6 linked regions of the Homo sapiens genome follow. The protein of the gene in region 3 purifies or fractionates together with the protein of the main gene of each other region. This does not show direct contact. Each region holds a gene or a part of one and is shown on either strand. Other genes may lie near its edges. The genes, in order: PKM, BRAF, DIRAS2, HRNR, KRT9 and KRT2.

Region 1 (5,189 bases), on a different chromosome or scaffold from region 3:
GGAATGGAAAAGCTCTTTCCTCCCGGGAACAATGCTCAAGTCACTGCTAAAAGTAATACAGTTTTTTGCTCTTATTCTCTAACTCTGTATACTTCACGGAAATAATCCAAGAAAAGAATATGTTTCAGTTATGCTACTTAATGATGGGGAAAAAGATACAAAGAGATGGTTCTCCAAGTTAGAAAGCCTAAAGTTTAGGTTTTTAGGGTAAAAAAAAAAGGTTCCTTTGTGGTACCATTTCCTAGCAAAGTAGATCAAATCAACATTGTTTACAGTGATGAATAAATCCTCATTTGTAGACCTCAACTCCTCTGCAGTCCTTCATAGTACTGGGAAGAAACATGGCAACCCAGCGCTTTGGAGGACATGTCTCTGGGGCATATTGCCTACTGAGCCTTCCCCTCGCTCTCCGCAGAATACTCACGCCCTTGATGAGCCCAGTTCGGATCTCAGGTCCTTTAGTGTCTAGAGCCACAGCAACGGGCCGGTAGAGGATGGGGTCAGAAGCAAAGCTTTCCGTGGCTGTGCGCACATTCTTGATGGTCTCCGCATGGTACTGGGGGAAAAGAAGGAAGATGACAAGCGTGCTCCCACACTAGAATCCAGCTCCAATTCCCCTGCCCAGGAGCCAAAGCTGATCACTCAGGAAAGGCCCGTGGATGTCTTAGAGCTCTATCTCCATCCTCAGCACGATCCATGCACTGAGAAATCCTCTACCTGCTTAATCCAACCTCCTCAGCCTCCACCCACTTCTACTACAGCACTAATTCACCCAAAGGGCAAATCTTTGAAATGTAGGTGGCAAATTTCAGAATATTGCCACCAAAACCCATTAAGGTATGGGTGCAAACATGTCTCATCATAAAAGCAGCTGTGTCCCCAGGGCTGTTCTTTTTTCCCTAAGACTCATCAAATACCCTCAGCATATAAAGCTCATAAACAGGGCAAAAAGCCTAGGACTTGTGTTTGGATAAGGCTGGTCTGGCAATCAATGTCACATTCTGATATATGTGGTAATGCTGAGAGCTTTTCCTCTATTGATTCCAACTACAACGCAAACTTGAAGTTATTGACTTAAGCTAACAGTGGCCCAAGCTAAATAACTCATTGCTAAGGTCACACAGACCTGATTTTCTCAATCGCTTTGTTTTTTTTTTTTTTGAGACAGAGTCTTGCTCTGTCGCCCAGGCTGGAGTGCAGTGGCACTATCTAGGCTCACTGCAAGCTCCACCTCCCAGGTTCACGCCATTCTCCTGCCTCTCAGCCTCCCGAGTAGCTGGGACTGCAGGCGCCCACCACCACGCCTGGCTAACTTCTTCGATTTTTAGTAGAGACGGGGTTTCACCATGTTAGCCAGGATGGTCTCGATCTCCTGATCTCGTGATCCGCCCACCTCGGCCTCCCAAAGTGCTGGGATTACAGGCGTGAGCCACTGCGCCCGGCCTCAATCACTTTCTAGATTCTGATTGGAGGGGGAAAGGTGGTCATATGCCTTTCTCTAAATGAACTGCCCTTTATTACTCCTTGCTTACAACAAATCCTGGCTTCAATCTTTTTTCTTAAGCCTTTCCTCCTTTCCATTTACCATTTTGTTTGTTTAAAAGAGGGACTCAGGCTAAGCACAGTGGCTCATGCCTATAAACCAAACACTTTGGGAGGCTAAGGTGGGAGGACAGTTTGGGCCAGGAGTTTGAGATGAGCCTGGGCAACATGGCGAAACCTCGTCTCTACAAAAAACACAAAAATTAACTGTGCATGATGGTGCGTGCCTGGGGTCCCAGCTACTTGTGAGGCTGAGGTGGGTTATGTCTAGGAGGTCAAGGCTACAGTGAGCCATGATCACACCACTGCACTCCGGCCTGGATAACAAAGCAACACCCTATCTCAAGAAAAAAAAAAAAAAAAGACGCAGAGCCAAGATGTCAAAAGAGCTCTAAGATAGTGTCATCAATAAGACATTAGCGGTAACAAGGGCACCTAATTCAGCACTTTCTGGGCCTTGTCCTTTAACCACCACTGTCCAGGAAAGTGGCACCTGCAAGTAAGCCTGCCTGTTATTCACAGGAGGCTGGAGGGAGCTGGAGCCAGAGCCTAGCCTCTAAAGACAGTGTTGCCTGAAACCTGTGTCTAAAAATCTTCAGCTTCTTATTCAGGCATACTTCCTAATGACAGACCCTTGGCTTGTCTGTTTTTTATAGGGTTCCTTATAAATTATGATATTTTCTTGCTTACTGGCTTGTAATAGAAATAGAACAAAATAGAATAGAATAGAGGCTGGGCGCGGTGGCTCACACCTGTCATCTAAACACTTTGGAAGGCCAAGGCGGGTGGATCATGAGATCAAGAGATTGACAACAACCAGGCCAACATGGTGAAACCTCGTCTCAACTTAAAATACAAAAATTAGCTGGGCGTGGTGGCGTGCACCTGTAGTCCCAGCTATTCAGGAGGCTGAGGCAAGAGAACCACTTGAACCTAGGAGGCAGAAGTTGCAGTGAGCCGAGATCGTGCCACTGCACTCCAGCCTGGGCGACAGACAGAGTGAGATTCCGTCTCTAAAAGAAAAAAAAAAAAAAGAATAGTAATAGTTGTTTTCTTTTAAGGGGATAGGTGGTGCCTTTCCTTCAGAGTTGACGTGAGGAGTAAAAGAATACATGAAGTATTAGGACAAAGTACATGGTAATTATCTAATAAATGTTACCTATTATCATCTTATAATGATAAGACTCAGGTGTACTGAGTTCCACTACAGCTGTGGCTTTGTTGGGATGTTATCACGTGGATAAGAGTTCCACACATCAATGCTGTCCTGCGGAAGGCTCTATATTTAGCTATATTTAGGTTGTTTAAAAGTCAACCTTAACTCAGGCCAGGCGCAGTGGCTCACGCCTGTAATCCCAGCACTTTGGGAGGCCGAGGAGGGGGGATCACAAGGTCAGGAGATCGAGACCATCCTGGCTAACATGGTGAAACCCCGTCTCTACTAAAAGTACAAAAACAAAATTAGCCGGGCGTGGTAGCAGGCGCCTGTAGTCCCAGCTACTCGGGAGGCTGAGGCAAGAGAATGGTGTGAACCCGGAAGGCAGAGGTTGCAGTGAGCCGAGATCGTGCCACTGCATTCCAGCCTGGGTGACAGAGCGAGACTCCGTCTCAGAAGAAAAAAAAAAAAATGTCAACCTTAACTCTACTTAATCCCGATGTAGAATTTTGTTCTCCTAGAATAAAATCTACTTGGTCATGGATCAAGACATTCCTTTCAATCACTACTGGATTTGGATTATTAAATTTTATTTGTTTTCTGCATCTAAGTGAGACTGGTCTAGCACACTAACTGTTAGTACCTGCCTGGTTTTGGTACTGTCCTTGTTTGATCTCAGTATCAGCGTATATTGGTTTCAAAGAACACAGTGGGAAGATTTCTATATTTCTCTAGGCTCTGGAACAGTTTAACAATGTAACTGAACTTTGAAGGGGAGACAATTCAGCCACTAAAATCATTTGGACTTAAGTGTTCTGAGGTGAACCAGATCTTAATCACTTTTTCAACTTTTTGGCTGGAGTGCAGTGGCGCGATCTTGGCTCACTGTAGCCTCCACCTCTCAGGTTCAAGCGATTCTCCTGCCTCAGGCTCCCGAGTAGCTGGGACTGCAGGCATGTGCCACCATGCCCAGCCAATTTTTGTATTTTTAGTAGAGACAGGGTTTCACCATGTTGGCCAGGCTGGTCTCGAACTCCTGACCTCAAGTGATCCCTCCGCCTTGGCCTCCCAAAGTGCTGGGATTGCAGGTGTGAGCCACCGCACGCCCAGCCCACTTTTTCAACTTCTTATGGCCACTGGTCTATTCATATTTTCTATCTTTTGGATATTTATCTTTTCTTTGAAAATAGCCAGAGTCATCTCTCTATATAGGAATTAAGTTATAAGTCTTTCTTGACTTTTAAAATCTCCAATGTGTAGGAAATATTCTCTTTTCTATTCATACTCTTATTTGCACATCCTCGCATTCTTCACCTGGCTTCTCAGAACTTTCTATTTTACTATTTTTTCCCCACAAAGAATCAGCTCTTAGCTTAATCTGTCAAATTTATTTTCATTTCATTGAGCTATAATCTTACAAAATTATTTTCTTCACCCTTTTTAGGGTTTTCCTCCCCTAGTGTTCTGAGTTAAATATTTATTTCATCTACCTTGAGATCTTTGCTTTCTAAAGTAAGCACACTTCAGTTTTCTTGACTTTGTTCTTAATTTCCACTAAAAAATTTTATCAGAGAATGTGTCTGTATAATTTCTACTTTATGAAACGTGGGGGTTTTTTTGGTGGCCTAATATATTTTTGTAACCATGAGTGTTTCATGCAAACATGCATTTTTGGTCTTGGGGATGTAAAACCATATATTATAAACATACCAATTATTAGGTATATTATTCAAATCTATGTCATATATCATAATCTCTTAGAGCATCTCTGGGAGGTGTACTGAGTCTTCCACTTCAGCTGTGGCTTTATTGGGATGTTATGTGGTAAAGCATCCATCAATGCTGTCCTGTGGAAGGCTCTACATTTAGGTTGTTTAAAAGTCATTATTTCTAGGCCAGGTGTGGTGGCTCACGCCTGTAATCCCAGCAATTTGGGAGGCCAAGGCGGATGGATCACTTGAGGTCAGGAATTCGAGATCAGCCTGGCCAACAAGGTGAAACCAAGTCTCTACTAAAATACAAAAATTAGTCGGGTGTGGTGGCAGGTGCCTGTAATCTCAGATACTTAGGAGGCTGAGGCAGAAGAATCTCTTGAACCCAGGAGGCAGAGGTTGCAGTGAGCCAAGATCGTGCCACTGCACTCCAGCCTGGATGACAGAGCGAGACTCCCTCTCTAAATAAATAAATAAATAAATAAATAAATCTGGAAAACATGGCATATGGAACCACATGTTCAGCAAGAATGCATCTTGCCCATGTGAACTGCCAAAAGTGAGGGCTGAAGACTAGTTGCCAAAGCTGTTAAAAGAGGGCTGGGCGTGGTGGCTCACGCCTTTAGGAGGCCGAGGCAGTCGGATCACCTGAGGTCACAAGTTCAAGACCAGCCTGGCCAACATGGCGAAACCCCGTCTCTACTAAAAATATAAAAAAATTAGCTGGGCGTGGTGGCACAGGTCTGTAATCCCAGCTACTCAGGAGGCTGAGGTATGAG
Region 2 (5,189 bases), on a different chromosome or scaffold from region 3:
GGCAAGCATTCAACTGAGTTCTCATGTATAATGAAACTTATTTGAGATTGTGTGACTTACTGTTAGTATGAGAAGGCATGTGCAGGAAGAATATGAGTGGAATATCATCAGTGTTAGAGGCAATCCTGCAAAAACTAAAGGGAGATGAACATTTTCTGTGGCTCTAGAATAGGAATATAAAGACCACTCTGAATCATAATCTCTTCCCTATTTGATGTTCTCTGACACTATTCCCATGGAAGTATATATTAATGTGTGTAAAACAAAAAAGTTCTGAGTTAATTAGGAGTAATTATCAATAGTACTTTATCTTTTTATGGTAAAAAAAAGTTATAAAGGCAATAACTGCTTGCTAGTCACAGAAAAGATGGGATATTTTTATGATGGGAATTAAGTCACCTCCATAAAACATTACCAGAAATTACGCTAACAAGAGCTCTATAAAAATAATCAGCCAGGCACGGTGGCTCATGCCTGTAATCCCAGCACTTTGGGAGGCTGAGGCGGACGGATCATGAGGTCAGGAGATCGAGACCATCCTAGCTAACATGGTGAAATCCCATCTCTACCAAAAATACAAAAAAATTAGCCGGGCATGGTGGCATGCGCCTGTAGTGCCAGCTACTCTGGAGGCTGAGGCAGGAGAATCACTTGAACCCGGGGGGGGGGGGGGGCGGAGGTTGCAATGAGCCGAGATCACACCACTGCACTCCAGCATGGATGATAGAGCGAGACTCCGTCTCCAAAAAAAAAAAAAAAAAAAAACCATACCTACTTAAGACTTAATTACAATTTTATGGCTGACACCAATAATCCCCTTTAATATTAAAAATACATCTATAAGCCAAAATAGAAATTTATTTTGCAAAATAAATGGTACAAGGTAAAAAATACAGTTTAAAAATATCAAGTCAATTGAGAAACAACCCCAAGCAGTACATTAAACTGTTTAAAATATGCCAAAATAAGTGACTAATTCAAAGTATCCTAACATTTTATTTCAATTAAGCAGTTCTAAAACTATAAAGTAAAAATTTTCTGGTGTTATTAACTTAAAGGTTACATATTTAGTGCAAGAAAAAATATAAAACAAAAGTATTCCCCAACTTAAATATAATTAAAGTATCTTTTTTTTTTTTTTTGACACGGAGTTTCCCTCACTCTTGTTGCCCAGGCTGGAGTGCAATGGCGCAATATCGGCTCACTGCAACCTCCGCCTCCCAGGTTCAAGCAATTCTCCTGCCTCAGCCTCCCAAGTAGCTGGGATTACAGACATGCGCCACCATGCCCGGCTAATTTTTTGCATTTTTAGTAGAGACGGAGTGTCTCCATGTTGGTCAGGTTGGTCTCGAACTCCTGACCTCAGGTGATCCACCCATCCTGGCCTCCCAAAGTGCTGGGATTACAGGCATGAGCCACCGTGACCAGCCTAATTAAAGTATCTTTTAAAGATATCCACACTTCTTTACTTTTTAAAAACAGATTAATTTTGGAACAATAGTTAAAAATAGTCTGCCAAGATATTGTATTACTCTCTCCCTGGAAGTGTAGTTTCAAAATCGGCAAGGTGATGCTGGGTGCGGTGGCTCATGCCTGTAATCCCAGCACTCTGGGAAGGACTGCTTGAGCCCAGGATTTCGAGACTAGCCTGAGCAACACAGCATCTCTACCAAAACAAACAAACAAACAAACAAAAAAAACCCAAGGATTTTTTTTAAAAACTCTGCAAGGTGACCCAACAAAACTGGAACGATACTCCTTGCAACATGGTCAAAACTTAGTCAGTTTCTACCTTCGCAATTGTCACCTGACCCTCTACTAGTCAGGTATTCCACACTTCCTCTCTAGAAACATGTGTTTCCTGTTATTTTGTTTTTAAATTATTAAATGAAAATCATGATGAGAAACATCATTTTACACTGTAGGGATAATTCCCTGGGCTAACCAGTAAAAAGCTATCAGTGCAGTTTAAAACAAAGTAAAGGGGCCCTATAGGCCCCACTGAAAAAGGTAGAAATATGACCAACTACTACCATATGCCTTTCCTTAGAAGAAACATAATGATTTAATGATGCCCCTAAGATTCATAAAGATACTAACTCTGAAATATCACAGAACATGACATAGGTTTCAAATGGAAGAACTCTTCTAATGAAGATGGAGAATAACACATTGTAAACTAGTATCTTTCACAACCTAATTGACACTTTCGGTGACTTTTTTTGGTGAATAAACATCTTAACATATTCATTTTCCCCTATACACATTTTGATTACACCTCATAATGCAACACGGTAAAAAGGACGTGATTGACTTTTCTGTGCAACCTACTAAAATATGTCCTTTCTTATAAGGAAATTAATTTTGGTTGCAACTTTTACCTGTCACTTTTCATGAACCTCACCACCACATAATTCAAGACAGAGATATATTAACTATATACTGAAGTCTTAAGTATTTGGGGGTAGAAGACACCTTTGAAAACCTGAATAAAATTATGAGTCTTCTCCTTCCAAAAGTATGGTAACAAGAAATTAAAAAGTCAAAGTTCTAAAAATCTTCTCAACTGGACCTACCTGATTTTAAATTTAACTATAAAGCTATCATAACTAAGGTAGTGGGGTATTAGCCTAAGAAAACACACACAGATCAATAAAACAGTAGAATCCAAAACTCACAAACATAAGCAATTGATTTCAATAAAAGTGCCAAGGTGATTCAAAAGAAATTTGATAAATGTGAAACAACTGGACATCCATATGTAAAATAATGAATGAACCTTAACCACTGCTTCACAATTGCTGGAGTGCAATGACGCGATCTCGGCTCACTACAACCTCCCTCTCCCGGGTTCAAGTGTTTCTCCTGCCTCAGCCTCCCAGGTAGCTGGGATTGCAGGTGCCCACCACCATGCTCGGCTAATTTTTGTATTTTTAGTAGAGAGGGGGTTTCACCATGTTGGCCAGGCCAGTCTCAAACTCCTGACCTCAGGTGATCTGCCCTCCTCAGCCTCCCAAAGTGCTGAAATTACAGGTGTGAGCCACCATGCCCGGCCCCACTGATATGACTTTTATATGACTCCATTTATATGACTTTCTGGAAAGGGCACAGAGATCAGACCAGTGTTTGCCAGGGGCTGAGGGTAGAAGATGAAACTGAGTGCAAAGAGGAACTAGGAGCTGGGCTTGGTGCATGCCTGTAGTCCTAGCTACTTGGGAGGCTGAGGCTGGAAGATTGCTTGAGCCCAGAGTTCAAGTCCAGCCTGGGCAATACAGTGAAACTCCACCTCTCTCTCCCTCTCAAATAAATCAATCTAGTTTTTACAAAAGCAATTATGAACTTTCTATAGACCTCTAACCTACATCTTACTTTGAGAACCTCAAATATAACATATATAGTCTCCCTTAGACCAGGAGTCAGAACAGTTCAGCCCATGAACTGGCCCACTATCTGCTTTTGTATAGCTCACAAGCTAAGAATACTTTTTACATGTTTAAGTGGTAGAAAAAAAATCAAAAGAAGATTTTCATGACACATGAAAATGATATGAAATTCAAATTTCAGTGTCCTGAAAATGACTACTGGAACAGAGTCAAACTCATTTGTTTAAATATTGTCTATTAGCTACTTCTGAGCTACTACAGTATTGTTGAGGAATTGTGAGAGGAACTGTATGTCCCACAATGCCTAAAATATTTGCCATCTGACCCTTAAGATTGCTGACCTCTGCCTTAAGACACAAGTTGTTGAAATTTTCTACACAGATGATACCTGAGAAGATTTATGCCAGCACAAACCTCTCTTCCATACATAGTAGCTCTAAAATTTTTACAGCCATAAAACCCTTTTTTCAAGGAAACTAACATGTAAAGCAGATAAATGAAGAACTTCAATAGTTATGGTATAGGGCAGCACTCCCCAACCTTTTTGGGACCAGTGACCAATTTCATGGAAGACAATTTTTCCATGGACAGGGGTAGAGGGGGTTTCAGGATGAAATTGTTCCACCTCAGATCATCAGGCATTAGATTCTCACAAGAAGCACACAATCTAGATCCCTCACATGCACAGTTTCTGATAGGGTTCACGCTCCTGCCGCTGATCTGACAGGAGGTGGAGCTTTGGCGGTAATGCTCACTTGCCTGCCACTCACCTCCTGCGGTGTAGTCAGGTTCCTAACAGGTCACGGACTGGTAGATACGAGGCTGTGGCCCAGGGGTTGGGGGCCCCTGGTATAGAGGCACTAAACAGAGCCCTGGGGTAACCTCTGAAGAAGGTCCTTGAAACCCCAAAACAGTGTTTTTCAAACTGCCTGTTGCAGCCAATTTGGCTGTCAATTTCATAAGGTGATTTTGTGACCGGCAGAAAAAAAGAATAGAATGTTACAGAAAATCAGATCACCTCATATCCAGTAAGGTTTTATTCACTAATTCTTTCACCAAATATTTTAGTACCTATGTGCCAGGTACTATTATAGATGAAGATTTTAAAACTACAAAACAGACAAAAACAGTTTCACATATGCATTAGTGCAATTTGGAATTTTTATTCTGGCCAGGTGTGGTGGCTCACGCCTGTAATCCCAGCACTTTGGGAGGCTGAGGCGGGCAGATCACGAGGTCAGGAGATTGAGACCATCCTGGCCAACACGGTGAAACCCCGTCTCTACTAAAAATACAAAAAATTAGCTGGGCGTGGTGGCAGGCGCCTGTAGTCCCAGCTACTGGGGAGGCTGAGGCAGGAGAAAGGCAGAAAGGCGTGAACCCGGGAGGCAGAGCTTGCAGTGAGCTGAGATCGCGCCACTGCACTCCAGTCTGCGAGACAGAGCGAGACTCCGTCTCAAAAAAAAAAAAAAAAAAAATTATTATTTACAATGATAGAATGTTTTCGAAAAATTCTCCTAGAGCTCTGGCGTACTTTGAAAACCACCGTCCCACAGTACATTTGTCCCAAACGTGCTGTCAGGAACTGCAGCTACATTACAAGAATGAAAACGACGCTTTATCCGATGTTACAGAGCTTCCAGAAGATATAAAGTTAATTGAGTTCAAAGCAATTTTTATATTCTACATCACCAGGGCCCAGAAAAAGAAGTTACTGGGCATTGAGTTCCCTCTATATGCATAGTCTTGATACAGGAAGGAATTAGAATAATAGTTTTTTTTTTTAAGCCCAAGAGAAAACATGGA
Region 3 (5,189 bases):
GGATGTTCTAATATTTATTCAGTGTTTATATTAACTCATGAAATCCTCACCACTCTGCAGGAGTTGGTGCCATTAGCTCTGTTGTACAATGATGAAACTGGAAACAAGGAAGAGATCGGGAATGGAATGTCTCTGATGTTACACAGCAATAAGAGGGAAGGCTAGGATACAACCAAAGCATTGTGGATGTCAATGCCCATCCCATAAGCTGTCTGTAGACAGAGCTGGTCCCAGTGACTTGGGCGTTACTCAGGCCATAGTATAGATTGTCTCCATTAAGTATGAAGAGTTAACTAATAAGTGTGGATAGTCATTTCATTCATCAAAATTAAGATGATTATATAAGCTTTATTTTTAAGAAACATAAGGAATCAGGTATTACCAGGATAGTAGCATAAACTACTTTTTAAGGGTCATTAAAAATGAGGAGAATGCAGCAACTCTTCATCACAAACTTCACCCCTAGTTTAATATTTATTTTTATTCAGGGATGTGTAGATGTGCCTTCTTAATTTACAATCTATCAAAATTTTTTCATTCTGTACCTTCTTCGGTAAGGAAGGACATATAACACCAAACAAAATAGAGAATTACACAATTTGGATACATTTTTAAAACTGAAGTTGATAAGTAACATGGTAATGTGAAGCATGGAATTCATTCTTCTCAGCAAGCAGGCATTGTGCTGACTTTTCACCTTTCTAGTTTTAGGGCAACTTTGGAAAAACAATAAAAAGCTTTACTGAAGCAAATAAGTTTTAGAGTCCAGTAAAAATATTAAACATAACTACCAATGGAAGGAAATGCATTTGTGCAGTGAATATGTTCTCCTGACAGACAGAACATCAGGTCAAAGCCCTGGACTGAGGTATTCCACCTTCTCATTTTGCCTCATGCGTCTGCCTACAAATCTGCTCGATTCAATACTCAGCTGTTCTTGCATGCACTTTGGAATCCCAAACCCTCCAAGAAGCTAAGGAAACATCAATGCTAACAGAAAATATAAAAGACTGTTAGGAAGTTCATTAACACCAAAAGATGGCAGAAGAGTCTGCTTAGGAGTTTGGTGAAGTTTATTAAATGCTTATGAGATAATTATGATTAATTCAAGGGTGAAGCATTGTGATAAATTTTTCCACAATTTTTTTAAAAAAACTCAATCGTGTCTTAGTTTGTTTTCTGTCACTATAACAGAATACCTCAGATGAAATAATTTTAAAAGCAATCTACTTCTTACAGTTCTGGAGGATGGTAAGTCCAATATGAAGAAGCTGGATCTGGTGAGAGCCTTTTGTTGCCTCATAACATACTGGAGGGCATGGCATGATAAGACAGAGCAAGCATGTCAGCTAGGGTCTCTCTCCTTGTCTTATAAAGCCACTGATGCCATGACAGGCATTGCCCAGCCTCCTCATGACCTCATCTATTCCTAAAAGCCCCACTTCCAAATACCATGAACATACACATTTGAGGATTACATTTCTAACATATGCACTTTTAGGGAACACATTTAAACCATAGAAAATGGACAATGGAATCTAATCTTAAGCTTCTTTCTACATCCTCAGAATGAAGCTCTCTTTTTGCTTAGAAGGGAGTTTCCTCACTCGTTTTGCCTTGTATTATGGTTATGTAGCTCCAGACTAGAGCATAAGCATCTAGCTGGAAGAGAACATATCTTAACAAGTTCTGCATCCCAATGTATCTCAAAGATCTCTTGGTTCACAGCACATACACTCTTTATGAGTTTGCTGAATATGTGGTCAGCTATGTTAAGGTGTCTCCATTATTAAACTGGCAACGAACACATAGGAAGTAAATGCTAAACATAAAATAAAGTATTCATGGCTACAATTATTCATTTACCCAGAGAAATATCCACTGAGCTTCCACTAAACCAGGCTGTGGACAAGCGGCCAGAAAACAACTGTGCAGAGGACAGACTTAAGGAAGGATCTCTATTCTCATGAAACTCAGAATCAAGTAAAGCAGACATCAATCCAAAAGATAACTTCATAAATATTTAATAAATTATATCATAGCAAGTGCTGCAAAAGAGAGGTCTGAAGGAATTTCATGAAATTTGAGATATCAGGAAGAATTTCACTAAGGAGGTGGCATGGAAGCATGAATCTGAAAGATGAACAGGAGTCAGAAAGTTGAAGGGGTATAAAGTTCAATGTGCATTTATGAGATAGGCCTGGGCCAATAACTCCATAGTGATCTTCAACTCACTAACAAAAACCCAGACTGTAGAGAATCACTTGAACCTGGGAGGTGGAGGTGGCAGTGAGCTGAGATCATGCCACCGCACTCCAGCCTGGGTGACAGAGCAAGACTCCATCACAAAAAAAAAAAAAAAAAAAAAATTGTAAACTATTTTCTTCCATGTCAGAACCATTCATTTATTTCACAAGCATTTATAAAATGTCTTCTAGATACTGTGCAAACTCAGTGCTTACCCAACAGCACTCACAGCATTAGAGGGGGGACAAGCATAGGAAAGTATACATTACGCCCCACTTCGCAGATGCTGTGATCTAGTTATCAACAAAGGCAGGATAAGAACCTAGTGGGGAATCTAGCTCTGCCTGGAGCCCTCAGGAAGCATTTCACAGAGGGCTGGAACTTGCCAGATGGTGAAGTGATGAAAGGCGTGTTAGTCAGAAGAAAGAACTTCATAGGAAGGAATAAATGGAGGAAATAGAGCTAATGCTCATGCCATGGTAGACAGCTTGTGTAAACTGGCATCCAGGAGTGAATTTGGGGTAGCAAGTGAGTGGTGGCACTCACCATCAATCAAGATAAAAGGCAGAAGAGAGAAGCAGCTTTAGAGAAATGACAGTAAACAACAAGGAGAAAGGAGCTGTGATTGGGTCAGGTTTATGGGACAAATGGGGGAGATATCTGGTAGGTGATTGGGATTTAGTGTGAAAGTTCAGCAGAGAGGACTCATCTAGTGATAAATATCTGGATACCATTCATACACAAACAGCACTATAATAAACAAAAATTCTCCAGGGAGAGAGCATGTAGAATGAAAGGAGAATACCACATGCCCAATCTGTTATATGCTATTGAGAGAACTTGGCAAGTTACTTAAACTTTCTGCATTTGAGTTGCTTTAGCTAGGAAATGGATATAATAATGCCAAGTTGTTTATGAGACTAATGTGGGGAGTAACACAATGCAATCAAGCACTTGAACAGCTCTCAGCACATAGTTTTTTGGCTACATTCAAGAAGGACCATGCAGATAAGGGGTTCATAAAGGAGCAGTATGATGGACAAGGAGAAAAATTCACAAGAGGGCAACTAGCTATTAAACTCATTCAATAAGATTTCAGAATACAACATTCATATAAAGAACCAACTGTATTTCTATACACTTGCAATGAACAATCTGAAAATGAAATTTAAGAAAATAACTCAATTTATAATAGCATCAAAAAGAGTAAGATACTTAGGAATAAATTTAACAAAAGATGCAAAACATATCTGGAAATTACAAACATGGTTGAAAGAAATTGAATACACGAATAAATGGAAAAGCACCCCATGTCATGTATCAGAGGACTTTTACTGCTAAGATAGCAGTATTTCCAGGAATCACCTACAGATTCAATGCAATTCTTAAAAGCATCCCACTAGCGACTCTGCAGAAACTGACAAACCGATCCCAAAATTTATGTAAAAATTCAAGAGACCCAGAATAGTCAAAACAATGTTGAAAAATTAAAAGTGAAAAAGCTGGCAGACCCATACTTCCTGATTTCAAACTCACGACAAGGATATAATACATCAAGAAATTGTGGTACTAACACAGGATACACAGATACATGAACAGAATAGAATTCAGAGTCCAGAAATAAACCCTCATATTTACAGTCAATTGTTTTTTGACAAGGGTGTCAATAAAATTCAATTCAAAAGGCAGAAGGAATAGTCTTTTCAACAAATGACGCTGAAACTGGTAAAAGAATAAGGGGAGCACCTCTCCCTCACACCATACACAAAACTGACTCAAAATAGATCAAATACCTAAATATAAGAGCTAAAACTATAAAACTCTTAGAAGAAAACATAGGTATAAACCTTGATAACCTTGGAGTAAACAGTGTTTTCTTAGATGTGACACCAAAAGTATGAGCAACAAGATTAAAACTAGGTAAATGTGACTTCATCAAAACTAAAGGACACAATCAAGAAAGAAGTAACCCACAGGATAAGTGAGTATTGTTATAAATCATATATCTGATAAGGGACTAGTTCTGGTATATACAAAGAACTTCTACAATTCAACAACAACAAAACAACTCAATTAGAAATGGGCAAAAGACTTAAAAAGACATTTCTCAAAAGAAGATATATGAATTTATTGACTATATTTAATAGTCAATAAGAAGATATACAAATAGCCAATAATAAGTCAATAACATGAAAAGATACTCAACATAATAGTCACCAGGGAAGTGCAAATCAAAACTATAACAAGCCTGTAATCCCATCACTTGGGAGGCCGAGGCAGGCAGATCACAAGATCAAGAGATCAAGACCATCCTAGCCAACATGATGAAATCTTGTCTCTAAAAATACAAAAATTAGCTGGGCATGGTGGCGCATGCTTATAGTCCCAGCTACTCAGGAGGCTGAGGCAGGAGAATTGCTTGAACCTGGGGGGCAGAGGTTGCAGTGAGCCAAGATCTCACCACTGCACTCCAGCCTAGCAACAGAGTGAGACTCTGACTCATCTCAAAAAACAAAACAAAGGCTGGGGGCGGTGGCTCATGCCAGTAATCCCAGCATATTGGGAGATCGAAGTGGGTGGATCACCTGAGGTCAGGAGTTCAAGACCAGCCTGGCCAACATGGTGAAACCCCGTCTCTACTGAAAATACAAAAAAAATTAGCCAGGTATGGTGGCAGGTGCCTGTAATCCCAGTTACTTGGGAGGCTGAGGCAGGAGAATCACTTGAACCCAGGAGGCAGAGGTTGCAGTGTGCCAAGATCACGTCATTTCACTACAGCCTGGGTGACAAGAGCGAAACTCCGTCTCAAAAACAAAACAAAACAAAACAAACTATAAAGTACCGCTTCATACTCACTTGGATGGTTATAATCAACAACAACAAAAAACAAACCCAGAAAATAACAAATGTTGACAAGGCTGTAGGAGCATTTGAACCTTTGT
Region 4 (4,307 bases), on a different chromosome or scaffold from region 3:
GTGTTTTTGAGATTCATCTGTGTTACATGTATCAGTAGTTTATTCTTTTTTTCCTTGCTAAATAGAATTCCATTGTATAGCCATACCACAATTTGTTTATCCAGTCATCTGTTCGTGGACATTTGGATTGTTTCAAGTTTGGGGCTATTATTAAAGCTGCTATAAACATTCATGTAAAAATCTTCAATGTAGACATACGTTGTCATTTCGCTTGGGAGTGGAATTGCTAGGCCCTATAGTAAAGTACACAATCGTGTTGCTTAACAATGGGGGATATGTTGTGAAAAATGCACCCTTAGGCAAACATCAGAGAGTGTACTTACACAAATATAGATGGTATAGCCAATAAACAACTAGGCTATATGGTATAGATTATTGCTCCTAGGCTACAAACCTATACAGCATGTTACTGTACTGAGTACTGTAGGCAACTAACACAATGGTAAGTGTGCATCTAAATGTATCTAAACATAAAGAAGGTACAGTAAAAATATGGCATAAAAGATAAAAAAGGTACACTTGTATAGGGCACTTACCATGAATAGAGCATGTAGGACTAGAAGTTGCTGTAGGTGTCAGTCAGTGAGTGGTGAGTGAATGGGAAGGCCTAGGACATTACTGTATACTACTGTAGAGTGTGTAAACACTATACACTTGAATTACACTAAATTTATAAAAGAATTTCTTCCTCCAGTAAAAATTAACTTTAGCTTACTGTAAATTTTTAGGTTTATAGACTTTTACATTTTTAAACTTTTTGACTCTCTTAATTAACACCTAGCTTAAAGCACGAACACATTGTATAGCTGAACACAAATATTTTTTTCTTTACATCATTATTCTGTAGGCTTTTTTCTGTTTTAAATTTTTTTAAAAAACTTTTTTTGTTAAAAATTAAAACTAACACTAAAAAGTTTTTGTTAAACCAAGACAAATATCGCCTTCTACCTCCATATGTTGTCTCCCTCTAAGGGCTTCAGGGACAATAAAATGTATGGAGCTGACAGCTCCACATTATTGTGTGTGATTTTGGTGTCATATCAAAAAAATCATTGCCAATACCAGTGTGATGGAATTTTGATCATTTTAAAATGAAGTAGTTTGTCTTATTGAGTTTTAAGAATGCTTTATCTATTCTTCATTGTGAAAAATAGAATATTGGGAAATCGCTGTTTGGTTTGGTTTCTAGGATGACCATCTGTATGTAAGAAGTGAAATGAAGCACAGATGAGAAAAGTCTTAGTATTTAATCAACATTTATTTATTGTCAATTTTAATACAATCCGGTTGTTTGAATCCAAAGACTTGAAACAAATGTGTTACAGTCAAATTAAGGAACTATGTAGCAGTGACAGATACTCTTCCTTTTCATCTGGGCATGGATGATATTTTTTCAGGTGGAAACGTTATTGAACTACAGTAGTAGGTGGAAAGCATTGTATTTCCATGGAATAACTCCTCAATATATTTCCCAATATTGAGCAGCCTCTTAGAAATAGGGAGCAAGATCTTTCTGCTGAAAACAAGCTAAAGCCCACATTTGAATGTTTTTTTTTTTCCTGAAATGATAAATCCCTATTCTTTATGAAATAATGCTCTTGCTCACTGGCTTGGGAAAAGACCCTGATGCTACTTTTTTATGCCACTAATTAACTTACTGATTAAATATATACCCAAGAAAAAGGACTTGATGGTTTTGATAAGTAAAGACACTACCGCTGCTGCATCTTTGCTTTCAGAGCCTTCACCTTCTGCCACAATACCAAAAATTGGGACACACCAAACTTGGGGCACACTAAAAATTAGGGTACACTAATTGCTGTAAAACAAAGCTTTGTATCTAGGACTGGTAATGCATTTGTAATATTTTGCTTCTAAGAAATGTAAGGTTAGCTTTGGCACCATCTATAAATGAATGATGAGCTCTCAAAAAGACAACTCCAACTAAACCCAAAGCTCTTTAAAAGCTTTTCATTATTCCTCAAAGTTTAACCCTCATTCTAACAAGTTATTCCACTCAGTATTTTCTAACAAAGTAGCACAAATGCCTAACAGTCTTTGGAAGGAACCCCATAACAAGATATATGCTACAGTTTTAGGCTCTAAAGAAAGAGACAGAAATGCATTGATTCACTTTTAGAACGAATTTCATGATGGATTGCTTGTCTTTCATGATGAATTCATAGATGACTTTCCTATTTCTTAAATTGCTACTTGAGTAAATTGCATTTATGTTTATTATTCACTGATAAAAGTAGCACCTCTGCTCTTGGACATATTCATAGGGTGAAGTGCTACTAGGAAAACTGAGAAAATATGAGCCAGAACTTCCCCCATCATGGTTACTTCCTCCTTTGCAATAAGAATACCCATCTTGCCCTGAGCCACTTCCATGCTGACTATAACCAGAGGACTGTCCTGAGCCAGACCCATGTTGGCCGTAGCTGGAAGACTGCCCTGAACCAGACCCGTGTCGGCCGTGGCTAAGAGACTGGCCAGATCCAGCCCCATGTCGGCCATAGCCAGAAGACTGACTGGAGCCAGAGCCACGGTGGCCATAGCTGGAAGACTGGCCTGTGCTAGATCCCTCCTGGTCAAAGGTTGATGACTGTCCTGATGTAGAACCATGCTGTCCTTGGCTACAGAAGTGCCCTGAGCCACTACCATGCTGACTGTAAGCAGAGGAATGTCCTGAGCCAGACTCATGTTGACCAAAGACAGAAGAGTGACCCAAGCGAGACTCATATGGGCCACGGCTGGAAGAACGACCTGAGCCAGACCCATGTTGGCCGTGGCTGGAGGAGTGCCCCAAACCGGACCCATGTCGGCCGCGGCTAGGGGACTGGCCAGATCCAGACCCTTGTCGGCCGTGGCCCGAAGACTGACGGGAGCCAGACCCATGCTGACCATAGTGGGAAGACGAACCTGAGCTAGATCCGTGTCGTTCACCCCTAGATGACTGTCCTGATCTAGAGCCGTGTTGTCCGTAGCCAGAGGAGTGACCTGAGCCAGACCCATGCTGACTGTAACTAGAGGACTGCCCTGAGCTAGACTCGTGGTGACCAAAGCCAGAAGACTCGCCTAAGCCAGACCCATGTTGGCCACTGCTGGAAGACCGACCGGAGCCAGACCCATGTCGGCCGTAGCTGGGAGACTGCCTTGACCCAGACCCACGCTGGCCGTGGCCTGGAGACTGGCCAGATCCAGAGCCCTGTCGGCCATAGCCAGAAGACTGACTTGAGCCAGAGCCATGCTGACCGTGGCTGGAAGACTGACCTGAGCTAGCTCCATGTTGGCCACAGCTCGATGACTGTCCTGATGTAGAACCATGTTGCCCATGGGTAGAGGAATGACCTGAGCTAGATCCATGTTGACCGTAGCCAGAGGACTGTCCTGAGCGAGACTCTCGGTGACCTAAGCCAGAAGAGTGACCGGAGCCAGACTCATATGGGCCACGGCTGGAAGACCACCCTGAGCCAGACCCATATGGGCTGTAGCTGGAAGACTGCCCAGAACCAGACCCATGTCGGCCACGGCTAGGGCTAGGAGACTGGCCAGATCCAGACCCATGTTGGCCGTGGCCCAAAGACTGACGGGAGCCAGACCCATGCTGACCATAGCTGGAAGATGAACCTGAGCTAGATCCGTGTCGTTCACCCCTAGATGACTGTCCTGACCTAGAGCCGTGTTGTTCGTAGCTGGAGGAGTGACCTGAGCCAGATCCATGCTGAGTGTAACCAGAGGACTGCCATGAGCTAGACTCGTGGTGACCAAATCCAGAAGACTGACCTGAGCCAGACCCATGTCGGCCACTGCTGGAAGACCAACCGGAGCCAGACCCATGTTGGCCGTAGCTGGAAGAGTGCCCGGAACCGGACCCATGTCGGCCGCGACTAGGAGACTGGCCAGATCCAGAGCCCTGTTGGCCATAGCTAGAAGACTGACTTGAGCCAGAGCCATGCTGACCGTGGCTGGAAGACTGACCTGTGCTAGATCCCTCCTGGTCAAAGGTTGATGACTGTCCTGATGTAGAACCATGCTGTCCTTGGCTACAGAAGTGCCCTGAGCCACTACCATGCTGACTGTAAGCAGAGGAATGTCCTGAGCCAGACTCATGTTGACCAAAGACAGAAGAGTGACCCGAGCGAGACTCATATGGGCCACGGCTGGAAGAACGACCTGAGCCAGACCCATGTTGGCCGTGGCTGGAGGAGTGCCCCGAACCGGACCCATGTCGGCCGCGGCTAGGGGAATGGCCAGATCCAGACCCTTGTCGGCCGTGGCCCGAAGACTGACGGGAGCCAGAC
Region 5 (5,413 bases), on a different chromosome or scaffold from region 3:
CTCCCTCTCTTAAAGTCAACACATTTCAGAACTTAATTACCAAAATCCCTTCACAGTAGCACCTAGGTTAGTGTTTGATTGAATAACCGGAAGAAGATATGTGTACAGCAGGGCCAGAAATCTTGGGAAAGTATCTCAGAATTCTGCCTACCACAGGTCTATTCCCTTTCCCTTGAATCTAGGCAGGCCTGTGACTACAGAAGAAGTGGCACTGTGTGACTTCCCCTTCCAGGTGATAAAGTCAAACAGCCTCTTTCTGGCGGTTTTTCACTTGGGACATGTGTCTTGGGAGCCCTGAGCCAGCATATAAGAAGTCGGGCTACCCTGAAGCTACCGTGCTGGAGGGATCACATTGAGACTCTCCATAGAGATAGAGAGAGATGTCCAAGGAGCCCCAGCGAGCCCAGGTATGTAAGTGACTAAGACTTCAAATGACTCCAGCCCCCAGCCTGTAAGCAGCAATGAAACCAAGAGGAGCAGAGACAAGCAGTCCCCACCAAGCCCTGTCAAAATTGCAGATTCATGAGCAAAATGAATTTTGTCATTTTAAGCCTCTATACTTTGGGGTAGCTTAATAAGCAGCTATAGTGTCTGGTACATAGGCTGAGGGGGGCTATTTGTCCCTAGTAATAAAAAGGATTTTTGACTATCAGAATCTTTAGAGAATATTGTTGGCTGATGTCTTGTGGAATGTCCCTTACTTTGCCTTGAAGGACTTTATATTTTTTATATTTTTTACTTGAAATCTTGCAAGCAAAGACCACATCATTTTTGTCTTGTTTTCCTCCATAGCTAACACACAACGTGACAATAGACTATGGTAGATTGTTTGCAAAAAATTGCTTCAGTTATTGCCCTCCCTATATCCATGCCCATTGCCATGTGACTTTGCAGTTCCTCCCCTCAAGAGAAGTCTATTTCCCCTGCTCTTGAATCTGGGCTAGGTTGCGACTTGCTTGGCCAATATAATACAGCCAAAGTGACTTCTCTGAACCTAAACCTCAAGATGCCTTGCATGTTTCTGCTCATGACCTTGGAACACATGCACAAGCTAGTTGGCTGGAGGATGGGAGTCACAGACCCCATTCATCCTCATCACCCCAGCCAGCATCCAGCCAACTACCAGAGGAAGAGCCACCTGGCTGACTTGCAGCGAACCATAGATGCATAAAGGGAACCAGAGCTTCCCAGACTAAACTGCAAAACTGTTAAGCTAAATGAATGGTTGTTATTTTCAGCCACTAAATGTGGGTTCCTTTGTTACAAGCAAAAGTTAACTAATAGAAAAGTGAACCCACACTCTTTATAACAGATTGATTATCCCTTTACTCTGTCACCAAGGATGGAATGCAATGATGCAATCATAGCTCACTGAAGCCTCCAACTCCTGGGCCCAAGCAATCCTCCCACCTCAGTCTCTTGAGTAGCTGGGACCACAGGTGCCTGCAACCATGCCTGTCTAATTTTTGTTTTGTTTTGTTTTTAGTTTTTTGTAAAGACAGGTCTCACTATGTTGCTCAAGCTAGTCTTGAACTCCTGGCCTCAAGTGATCCTCCTGTCTCAGCCTCCCAAAGTGCTAGGATTACAAACATGAGCTACTGTGTCCCACCCACCCTATCCCTTCTTAATCCCAAAGAACAAATGGGTCAAAGTCTGAGTTTGATTTGCAGTAGGGAAGCTTTATTATAGTCAAGATCGTGCAGGGTGTGAGAGCACCCCAGGCCAGAGAGAGGAAAGAGGTCTGTCTCCCCAACCCTGAAGGCATCAAAGCCAAGCAGGGTTGGAAGCCAATGGAAAGCCAGAGGCACATATGCCAAGTCAGTTCAGTCCCAAACGGGCACAGGGGCTTGTTGCCAGCTATTCCTGATGTCAGGATCCAATAAGCAGGCTTCATCGGGAGTCTGCCCATCTGGGGATGCTCAGCTGGGGCTGGGCAGGAGAAGTTTACAGAGGCTCTAGTATCGCGAAAGGAAGCCTGTGGAGAGATGGAAGGGAGATGAGGGGGAGAAGGGAGGACTGTAAGCAGGAGCAGAGAGGTTGGGACTTGGGGGAAGATGGGGAAACTCGAAGCAAGGACACTAGAGCTCAAAGAGCTGGACAATCCTGAGGTAGAAGGACCCTGGGGTCTCCCAATCTACTGGTCCCCATCTAATTCCTGAATCTCTGTTGCAGCAAACCTGACAGATGCACCCCCAAGTCTGAGGATGGGGGGCTTATGAGGCAGCCCCCTCCATTCAACAGATTTGTTAGTCAATTTTTTGTATATTGAGGCAAAAGATGGCCCCAGCCTCACTCCTAGATGTATATCCATGGACCTGCAGTGCCACTGGACTCACAAAACCACATTAGACACCCTGCAGGGCAGCTCCCAAGCACCTCAAGTCTTCTCTGAGCTAAACATTCCCAGTTATATTACCCAGGCTTTTCCTATAATTTCATATTACATTTTTATTTTATAAAATTCAATGTGTACATGGGAAAATGTTCCCTGATCTAGAGACCAACTCACCTGTGTGAGCCTTTCTTACATTTAGATTATGTTCATCCTTTTGGCAGTTGCATCATGTAATACTTGTGCAAGCCAACCACTGACTAAAATCCCTGAGTCTCTTTTCCACCTGAACTGTTGCTGATCCAGGTCCCCCATCCTCATGAAGGTTGAAAGTACTGGCTGTGAAGCCCCACAGAGCTGAACCCTTCATTTGTGATTGTATGACTTTGAGCAAATTATTTTCTCTGAACCTCATTTTCCTTAAAATGGGGATTATAATAAAACCTACCTCATAGCGTGTGTCATGATAATGCACAATTTTCAACCCATCTCCTACACTACTGAGACTCAGCCATGTGTAGATTTGGTCCTAGCCTCATCCTAGGCTCTGTCAAAAATAATGATCAATTCAGAACCAAGGGTAGGTCTCTGACACCTCACTAGAGATTTCCCTAACATCTAGCTCTATTCAGAATCTGTGTTCCCCAGAGATTCAAAAATACTCAAAAAAAAAAAAAGGTGAGACCTTGACTCTCCACCCCACAACCTAGGATTGTCCCTTACCTTTTGTCTCATCTTGGTCACCAGATTTTGAGGAAGAAGACTAGGAATGGGATGATTTTCCGCTTCCTCCTCCGTAGCCGCCACCACTTCCACTCGCTTCTTCACCGCCTCCGTAGCTGCCTCCACTTTCACCTCCAAAACCACTTCCTCCACCATGGCTGCCTCCACTTCCTCCCCTGGACCCACTTCCTCCACCATAGCCACCCCCACTTCCTCCTCCAGAGCCACTTCCTCCTCCATAGTTGCCCCCACTTCCTCCACTATGACCACCTCCACTTCCTCCGCTATGGCCACCTCCACTTCCTCCACCATAGCCACCTCCACTACCTCCTCCAGAACCACTTCCTCCACCGTAGCTGCCTCCACTTCCTCCCCTGGACCCACTTCCTCCACCATAGCCACCTCCACTTCCTCCTCCACCATAGCTGCCTCCACTTCCTCCCCTGGATCCTCTTCCATAACTGCCTCCACTTCCTCCTCGACCTCCAAGGCCAATTTTTCCAGCTCCGGAGGATTCACTAAGAAAGAAAGAAAACAAGAGAGTTAAAATGAGCGGCCCCCATACACATATATGAGGATGGACCTGGACAGAGTCAGGACCCAAACATGAATCTTTCTGTTTTCCTTCCTGGGAGGCAGAGGACAGAGTCTGGGCGGGCACCACAGCTGGGAGAGGAGAGCCTCCAGCTGAGACTGTGGAGCCCTCCCCTCCCTGGAGCAGGGAGGCAGCCCGTTCTCTCAGTGTCACCATCCTCCTTTCCCAAAGCCCAAATGCACTGAGGTCCCCCCGGCCCCCAGGATGAAGAAGTCCTCAACCCATAAGACCCTGTGTATAAGAACTTCCCCCAGCTGCCTCTATCCAGAGGGACAGAAGTAGTATCAGAGGCCTAGGGACCCCCAGGGGTTCCACCAAATCCTGGGGGACCTACAAGTCTTCCTGGCCTCCCTCAAGGAGGTTGTGGTAGGTCTCGATTTCCTTCTCCAGCCGCATCTTAATGCTGAGCAGAAGGCTGTATTCCTGATTCTGGCACTCGATCTCTTGCCGGACGTCAGTGATCTGGGCCTCCAAGTTACTGATCTGCTCCTGGATCATCTGCAGCTGGCCACAGTAGCGGTTCTTCGTGTCTTCCAAGCTCTTCTCCAGAGCTGCTTTCTAAGGGTTAGGAGAAGGCTTTAAGAGGGATGCTACATCATAACTCCTCTTCTTCCCACTCCTGGGCTGCAAAGACTTCCTGTGCCCCACCTTGGCAAAGGGTCTATAGCAGAACTACCAACCTTGCTGAGCTGAGACTGCAGCTCAATCTCCAACTCCTGGACACCGTGCCGGAGCTGGGTCACCTCCTTGGCACTGGACTGCACCTCCTGACCACTACTGGATACCTCATGCTCGATCTGGGTTATCTGCAAAACCAAAGGCTCAGTAAGCATCAGGCTGTGCCAGGAGCTTCAGTGAGTGAGATTCTGCCCCATTCACCAGGATCTTCACCTCCAGGGCCAAGGCTGATCTGAAGCCAATGACAAGTCATTCTGAGTTCTGGGTACCCTCCAGCCATGGAGGGTTGTCCAGTCCTCTCAACATGACATTCCCTCTCAACAAAGTTGCAAGACCCTTCACGCTTTGTCTCACAACCATCTTTCTAATCTAACCTTATTCCAAACTTCCCCCACCTTTCAAACATACACACACACACACACACACACACACACACACACACACACACACAGCACAGACCATGCCTTCATGTATGTGCCAGACTCTGGCTGGGCACTGGAGACTCAAGGACGAAGGGAACCACCAAGGAGCTCAGTACAGTATGGGAGACACACTGTATCCCTCTGCTATAGTCTTACATTACATAGCATTAGATTAAATTGTTCACATTCTGCTTTTGTTCACACACATCTAATAAACTGTGAGCTTCTCAAGGGCAGCAGTCTTGTTTGGCTCATATCAGACATCAATACCTCTGAGACATCAATACTTTACATATAACATGGCACTGAGAAGCTACTTTGTAATGATGTTTGTATGCAGTGAATGAAGATGGATGAATGACTTCCATTGGAAGATGGATAAATGACAGCTGCACTGAGAGATGCAGAGATAGGAGGATGAAGGAATGGGAGGTGGGAGGGATGGAGATAGGAATAGATGGAGGGGAGGAGGATGAATGGGCAGCCCACTCTGCTCACCTGAGTCTCATATTGATTCTCGATGTCCTTTCTGTTCTTAGCAATGAGCTGCTCATACTCCTGACGCATGTCATTGAGGGTCTTGGTGAGATCTTTGCCAGGAGCAACGTTTATCTCCACATTGACATCTCCACTGTTCTGCCCAGTCAGCTGACTCATCTCCTG
Region 6 (5,775 bases), on a different chromosome or scaffold from region 3:
TTTGACCTCTGAAGTACAGTAGGCACAGGAATGGGCACAGGGCTTGTCTCTTCCCCAGGGGAAATGGACATCTGGGGAATGGAGGGAGGGGAAGCTGTCCTGGTGTTTCCTGAACCTTATTCCCATAACATCGGAGGAGAAAATTCCTCACCCACAAGACCTATGCTATGAAAGCCCCCCCAGTGGCCTGGAATGATGGCAGATTGAAGTCAGCTGGTCCATAAACCCCACTTCTGCCACTTTTTCACCAAGCAGAAAGGACTTTCATTTGGTGAGAAGGGTGGGAAGTAAGGGACTGTCCCGGAGCAGCCTCCTTACCGCATCATAGAGAACTTTCAGAAACTCAATTTCCTGGTTCAGCAGGTCCACCTTGGACTGCAACTCCACCTTTATCATGTAGGCATTGTCCACGTCCTGCAAGAAAGGTTGAGGCCTCTGGTGTATGGTTCCCTGTACAGGCCTCTTCCTCTCTCTGCCACTCCCCTCTACTCAGTCCCTGCTGGCTCCTCTCTAAAATCCCAGGCTCCCCAACCTGATCCCTGTCCCCATGGGACTTCTTTTGTCGTGCAGTTTACCATACACCTCTGCCAGGGACTTCATGCCTACGTCCATGGCTCACAGCCCTCAGGACCATCAGAGCCTCGAGATGACCAAGCTTTGCCAACCAGCCCCTCTCTCCTGCTTGAGACACTGTGTGTTTCTACAACAGGATACGATGTTCTTTGTGGGTTTCCACAGTCCTCAGCTCTCTCATCCCGTCTGTCCATCTCACCTCTCCGAAATTTCCCCAGAATATACACCAAAGGCCCTGCAGGACCCAGCAGGAGAACCCTTGCTTTTGGCCTACAACCTCAAACCTTTGTCAGCACAACCAACAGCAACTTTAAGCAGGCATTCTAAGGGAAGTCCCATTCCTTCCTCAGCTCTTTAGAAGGAGAATACAAAGAGATTTTTGTGTTTGCATTTATCATGATTCAGTAGAGGCTTTAAGTGGGTTACTACTGGGAAGCACTCTACCAAAAATGCAGAACAGCTTTGAAAACTGTATCCAGAAGCTTGACCTACAGAGACAATTTTGTTTGCAAGAGAATGTGCCATGGGTCTCACTCCTTTCTCTGGCTGCTGCTTTTGCACTCACAGTTGATTTCCAAACTGGCTGCTTAGACACAATGGGGCTGTGAAGCACTCCTATCCCCACCCCCAGCCAAGACATTCTCTCGCTCACCTTTTTAAGCGTCACAAAATCATTCTCAGCAGCTGTGCGCTTATTGATTTCATCCTCATACCTATTGGGACACAGATGTTACAGCAGTTAGATTAGTTCCCCTTCATTTTTTTTCTTTTCCTTTTATACTGGATTCACCCCAAATGCCCCATTCTCTGGGAATATTACACACTTTTTAAATATCTAAATTGAAACTAAGATTTCCAAACTAAAGATATATTTTTATAAACTAACTCTCAAACATACAAAAGACAAAAATGATCTCTAAAGTCTCACTGTCTTCCTCACAAATAATCAACAAAGATACATATGCCTCTCCCCATTACCACCACAAATGCAACTGGGAGATGAATGGCTTTCCAGGGAGTGATCAAATGGCTCAGTGCAATGTTTATCTCCACTCAGCGTTTCACTCTGCCACCTACTTCTTCTTATAATCCTCCACAAGATCCTGCATGTTATTCAGCTCTGAATTCTGTGATGTTCTTTCTGCAGTGAGCCCATCCAGATATCTCTTGAGGCTGTCGATATACCCCTGGAAGATGGGCTCCAGGTTGATGGGGCGGGTGCCAACATTCATTTGTTGTAGCAGCTCCCATTTGGTCTGTAACACCTGGTTCTGCTGCTCCAAGAACCGCACCTGCCATGACCAGAAGGAGAGCACATGAGTTCTAGATCATCCTTCACACCAAGCAAGCCACGCTGGCCAGGGGCAGCTCAGGTGCTGCTTCAGGACCTCGAGAAGTGTCTGAGGCTGGATGCCGAGTCATGACTGGCAGAGCTTCTGAGCTCCCTGCTTTCGCCCCTGGAAAGTCCCACAGACTCCTAATGCTACATCCGGCTCTCTCCACGCAGAGGAGACTCTTTGCTGCTTCACTGCTCACTGGTTTGTTTGCAGCTGCTCCCAATACTCTAGACCATTTCCCTCCCCGCATCCTGGTTGAATTTCCAGCCAAGATCCCATAAATTCTGGGGAAAACCGAAAGCAGCCATCTGCTGGCACTGCTCGCAAGGGTGCTGAGTATGAGAGTCCCAGAGGGCAGGGCTCCTCAGCCTGATTTTTAAGAGCCTTGTAAATCCCTGCCTATTTCAAGGCAGATAAACCAAGACAGGTTCGTCTGCCTTGAAATAGGAGAAAAGCCAGTAACACTCCGAAGTGACACCAATAAAGACTTTATGGATCACAAAACTGAGAACGCTTCTCTTGAAGGCAGGAATTTCCTGCATTCCCAAGCAGATATTTCAGGTTCAGCTTCCCAGAGTTTAGTAATCACTGCTAAGGAAGGAAACACTATCTCAGAAGACGATGGCTTCCAAAACCTGCTGCTCCAGTGGCCTGTCCCAAGGATCAGTTCAATACTTGCCTATATCCATTTTTTATGGTTTTCAGAATTTTCCATAAATATTATTTATATGGACTGTAACAATAAGGTCAAAGGGACAAATGCTTCCTAAGTGCAGGCTGTTATGGGAAATGTAACCCACAAAGCTGGCGTCTTTTCCATCTGGAAACCGCAAATGACCCAGGCTACTGCGGTACACCACTGGCTCCTAAGAAATACAAATCTGTGCCATTTTCTTTTTGGTTGGCTCTGGAAGTGAAGTGGCCTGAGCATCAGTGGGAGCCGTCTTCTCCAGAGTCACCTTGTCAATGAAGGAGGCAAATTTGTTGTTGAGAGTTTTGATCTGCTCACGCTCTTGGGCCTTCACATTCTGGATCTCTGGGTCAACTTTCACGTTGAGAGGCTGCAGGAGGCTCTGGTTGACAGAGACTTCGTGGATGCCACCAGGGTATCCTCCAGGCCCAAAGCCACCAGGACCCCCTAAACCTCCAACACCACCAGGGCCCCCAAAACCTCCAAAGCGGCCTCCACCAAAGCCGCCTCCACCGAAACCACCACCACTGAAGCCGCTGCCACCTCCAAAGCTGCTGCCGCCTCCAAAACCACCTCCTCTGCCACCAAATCCACCAGCGGCGCCAAAGCCACCACCTCCTCCAGCCACACTAATGGAGATGCTCTTGGTCCCTCCAAGGCCAACAAGACTCCGACTGCCAAAGCCGCCTCCACCGAAGCCCCCGCCACCACCACCATGGCGGCTCAAGCAGGAGAAGCTGGAAGTTGATCTCCGGCTTCCACCAGACACCACAGCTGAGCCGCTGCTGAAGCCCCGGAATCCTCCTCCACCTCCTCCTCTTCCTCGAGATTTGCAAGAGATCTGACAACTCATGATGCCTTTGTCCAGGGAGGAAAGTCACAGGCTCTTGAGAAGAGTCAAGGCTGGAGACTCAACTGTGCTGCTGGGAGGCTTTCAGGGTCCCCTTATATACCTGCCAACTAGGTGTTGTGTACATGGGTGTGGATCCACTTATACGTGGGTTTGGTCTGCCTGGGAGCTATTCCTGGTGCGTGATTATCAAGCTAATAGCCATTAAAAATCTACTAATCAGCTCCATCCCAGAACTTGCTTTGATTGCAAACTTCTGTTTATCTGGGCATCTGTCATGCAATTTGATTTTTGTAAAATCATCAAAAGAGGAGATCAGGGTTTGGGTTTCTCAATCTGGAAAAGGACCTTCTGCAGAATGCTGCTCCCTGTTCTGGACCTGCCCAAGGGAAGTCAGCTACCACCCATGCTTGTGCAGGCTCACCACCCCAGTTCAACAATGAAAGGGATGGTGGGTTTAGAGACTGCAAGAGCCCCTCAATGCCAGCCTTGTAGTTCTCTTGTAGTTTCCCTCTTTCCCAGAAAGAGCCCCAACTAGTGCAGGGGAGACTGCAAAGGTCTTAAATGACCTTAAATGCTAATTGGAAATCGACCTCCTCTTACAGAAAGTAATTGGCCTCGGATACTGCAAAAGAGGTGTCGATTTTCAAAATATCTTGGCTCTTTTCTTCCCATGCCACACCAAAAATACACAATAACTAGGCACCGAATAGAGATTTTTTATAACCATGATGGTTTGTATAACCATCAACTGTCCCTTGTCTACATGAACACCCAGAGGTTGAGAGGTATGAGAAAAGTTTCGCTGTTTCTGGACCTGTGTGATGCGGGACACCAAGTGAAAGTTTGCAAACCAAGATCCAAGTGTATATTGATTCAGTCAGTCAGTAATCACGTATTGCCTGGTGATCCTGGGAAGTGATTAGGAAGTCAGGCTCTTCAATGACATCCACAGATGCTTGAGGATAAGAAGACCATCCAGCCTGCACAGAGCACTCACACTTAAACTCAACCACTTCCTCTGTCCATGTGGCCAACTATGTGGGAGAGGTTCTTGGAGTAATAAAACTGAATTTAGTCAGAAATTCTGGGTTTGAGTCCCAGTTTTGCTATTTATTGGCTGTGAGGCCTTGAATGAAACCCTGAGGCTCTGTGGTCCCAGCTATAAAATGGGAAATTCGTATGAAGTGTTTTGAAAACCACCGTGCACAATAAAATGTCAGTATCATTATTGTTTGGGGTGAGACAAAGATAATTCCTTTTCCTTTCCCCCTTGCCATGTTACTGTCTTCTGGCTACTATGAACATGCACTCTCCACAGGCATCATAAATTACAGAACCAGGTGGTTCAGATCCTAGTACCAAGTTATCACAAAATAATGTAAAAAACATAAGTTTGAGGTCAAATCCCAATTTTCTTGTATCTTAGTTAAATGACCTCAGATAATCCATAATCCTCTTCAAGCCTCAGTTTCCTCATCTATAAAAAGTGAACAAGAATAATAAGAATATGGCTACTGTGAAAACAGAACAATACACACATGTGCTAAACACAGTTCCTAGTTCATAGCAGAAACTCAATAAATGCTATTCACCCTTCTGCATCTTCCCCGCCAAGTTTCCAATCCTGTCTTAACTACTATTCAAGGTATTTAATTTGCAGTAAAAGAATGCTGAAGGAAACAAAGCTACATGTCTCCTCAATTATTTTTTCCAATCTGGTTTGCATAATTATAATCATGCAAACAAATCATGAAGCTAACAGCTTTGGAGACAGTCTCAATCCAAAGCAAAATGTGTCATTATCTACAGATATCTGAGCAATGCCCTAGTCGTCCCTTACTCCACCATGACTGTGCTCACACTATGGCAGCTTCAGGGGGGTCTTAATGCCTCTATGAAGGAAATTGAGCCAGATTTGTGCTAGGCACCCAATCTGCATGTTTTACTGCATTTTAATTCTGCCCTCACACCCTGGTCTCCCTCCCCACTCTCTCCACTGAACATCTTCTCCTTCTAGACCCATTCACCAATTTTTGAAAGTCAAGTTGAAAGAGTCCTCCTACTCTTTTGAAATGTGGAGACTAGAATTAATGCAATTTGAATATTATGTAACATTTTATTTCTATATTTTTAAATTTTCAACTTTTACATAATCTCAATGTGCTTTCCTAGATAATATGCTTTGCATTCTTTAAGAGAGTGAAATGGAAGTTAAGAATCTTGGTCTGGTTGTGATTTTGCCTCTACGCAACTGGTATCCTCAATTTCTTCATCTATAAAATAGGAATATTTATCCTGAATCCCTACTGTCCCACAAGGAC

Evidence for each region.
Region 1: the proteins of DIRAS2 (region 3) and PKM purify together in Homo sapiens (affinity purification with mass spectrometry, with the first as the bait; one study listed by BioGRID). This does not show direct contact.
Region 2: the proteins of DIRAS2 (region 3) and BRAF purify together in Homo sapiens (affinity purification with western blotting; one study listed by BioGRID). This does not show direct contact.
Region 4: the proteins of DIRAS2 (region 3) and HRNR purify together in Homo sapiens (affinity purification with mass spectrometry, with the first as the bait; one study listed by BioGRID). This does not show direct contact.
Region 5: the proteins of DIRAS2 (region 3) and KRT9 purify together in Homo sapiens (affinity purification with mass spectrometry, with the first as the bait; one study listed by BioGRID). This does not show direct contact.
Region 6: the proteins of DIRAS2 (region 3) and KRT2 purify together in Homo sapiens (affinity purification with mass spectrometry, with the first as the bait; one study listed by BioGRID). This does not show direct contact.

Annotation. Positions count from the first base shown.
Region 1 is NC_000015.10:72,209,923-72,215,111, forward strand, and holds part of PKM (pyruvate kinase PKM), read right to left. Parts: intron 557-5,189; coding exon 425-556; intron 1-424. UniProt on the Homo sapiens protein: Catalyzes the final rate-limiting step of glycolysis by mediating the transfer of a phosphoryl group from phosphoenolpyruvate (PEP) to ADP, generating ATP.
Region 2 is NC_000007.14:140,914,306-140,919,494, forward strand, and holds part of BRAF (serine/threonine-protein kinase B-raf), read right to left. Parts: intron 1-5,189. UniProt on the Homo sapiens protein: Protein kinase involved in the transduction of mitogenic signals from the cell membrane to the nucleus. Phosphorylates MAP2K1, and thereby activates the MAP kinase signal transduction pathway. Phosphorylates PFKFB2.
Region 3 is NC_000009.12:90,614,390-90,619,578, forward strand, and holds part of DIRAS2 (GTP-binding protein Di-Ras2), read right to left. Parts: intron 1-5,189.
Region 4 is NC_000001.11:152,210,834-152,215,140, forward strand, and holds the end of HRNR (hornerin), read right to left. Parts: coding exon 2,243-4,307; 3' UTR 1,243-2,242; downstream 1-1,242. UniProt on the Homo sapiens protein: Component of the epidermal cornified cell envelopes.
Region 5 is NC_000017.11:41,564,178-41,569,590, forward strand, and holds the end of KRT9 (keratin, type I cytoskeletal 9), read right to left. Parts: intron 5,411-5,413; coding exon 5,249-5,410; intron 4,457-5,248; coding exon 4,331-4,456; intron 4,209-4,330; coding exon 3,985-4,208; intron 3,574-3,984; coding exon 3,096-3,573; 3' UTR 3,056-3,095; intron 1,976-3,055; 3' UTR 1,659-1,975; downstream 1-1,658. UniProt on the Homo sapiens protein: May serve an important special function either in the mature palmar and plantar skin tissue or in the morphogenetic program of the formation of these tissues. Plays a role in keratin filament assembly.
Region 6 is NC_000012.12:52,648,689-52,654,463, forward strand, and holds the start of KRT2 (keratin, type II cytoskeletal 2 epidermal), read right to left. Parts: upstream 3,524-5,775; 5' UTR 3,455-3,523; coding exon 2,870-3,454; intron 1,866-2,869; coding exon 1,651-1,865; intron 1,287-1,650; coding exon 1,226-1,286; intron 415-1,225; coding exon 319-414; intron 1-318.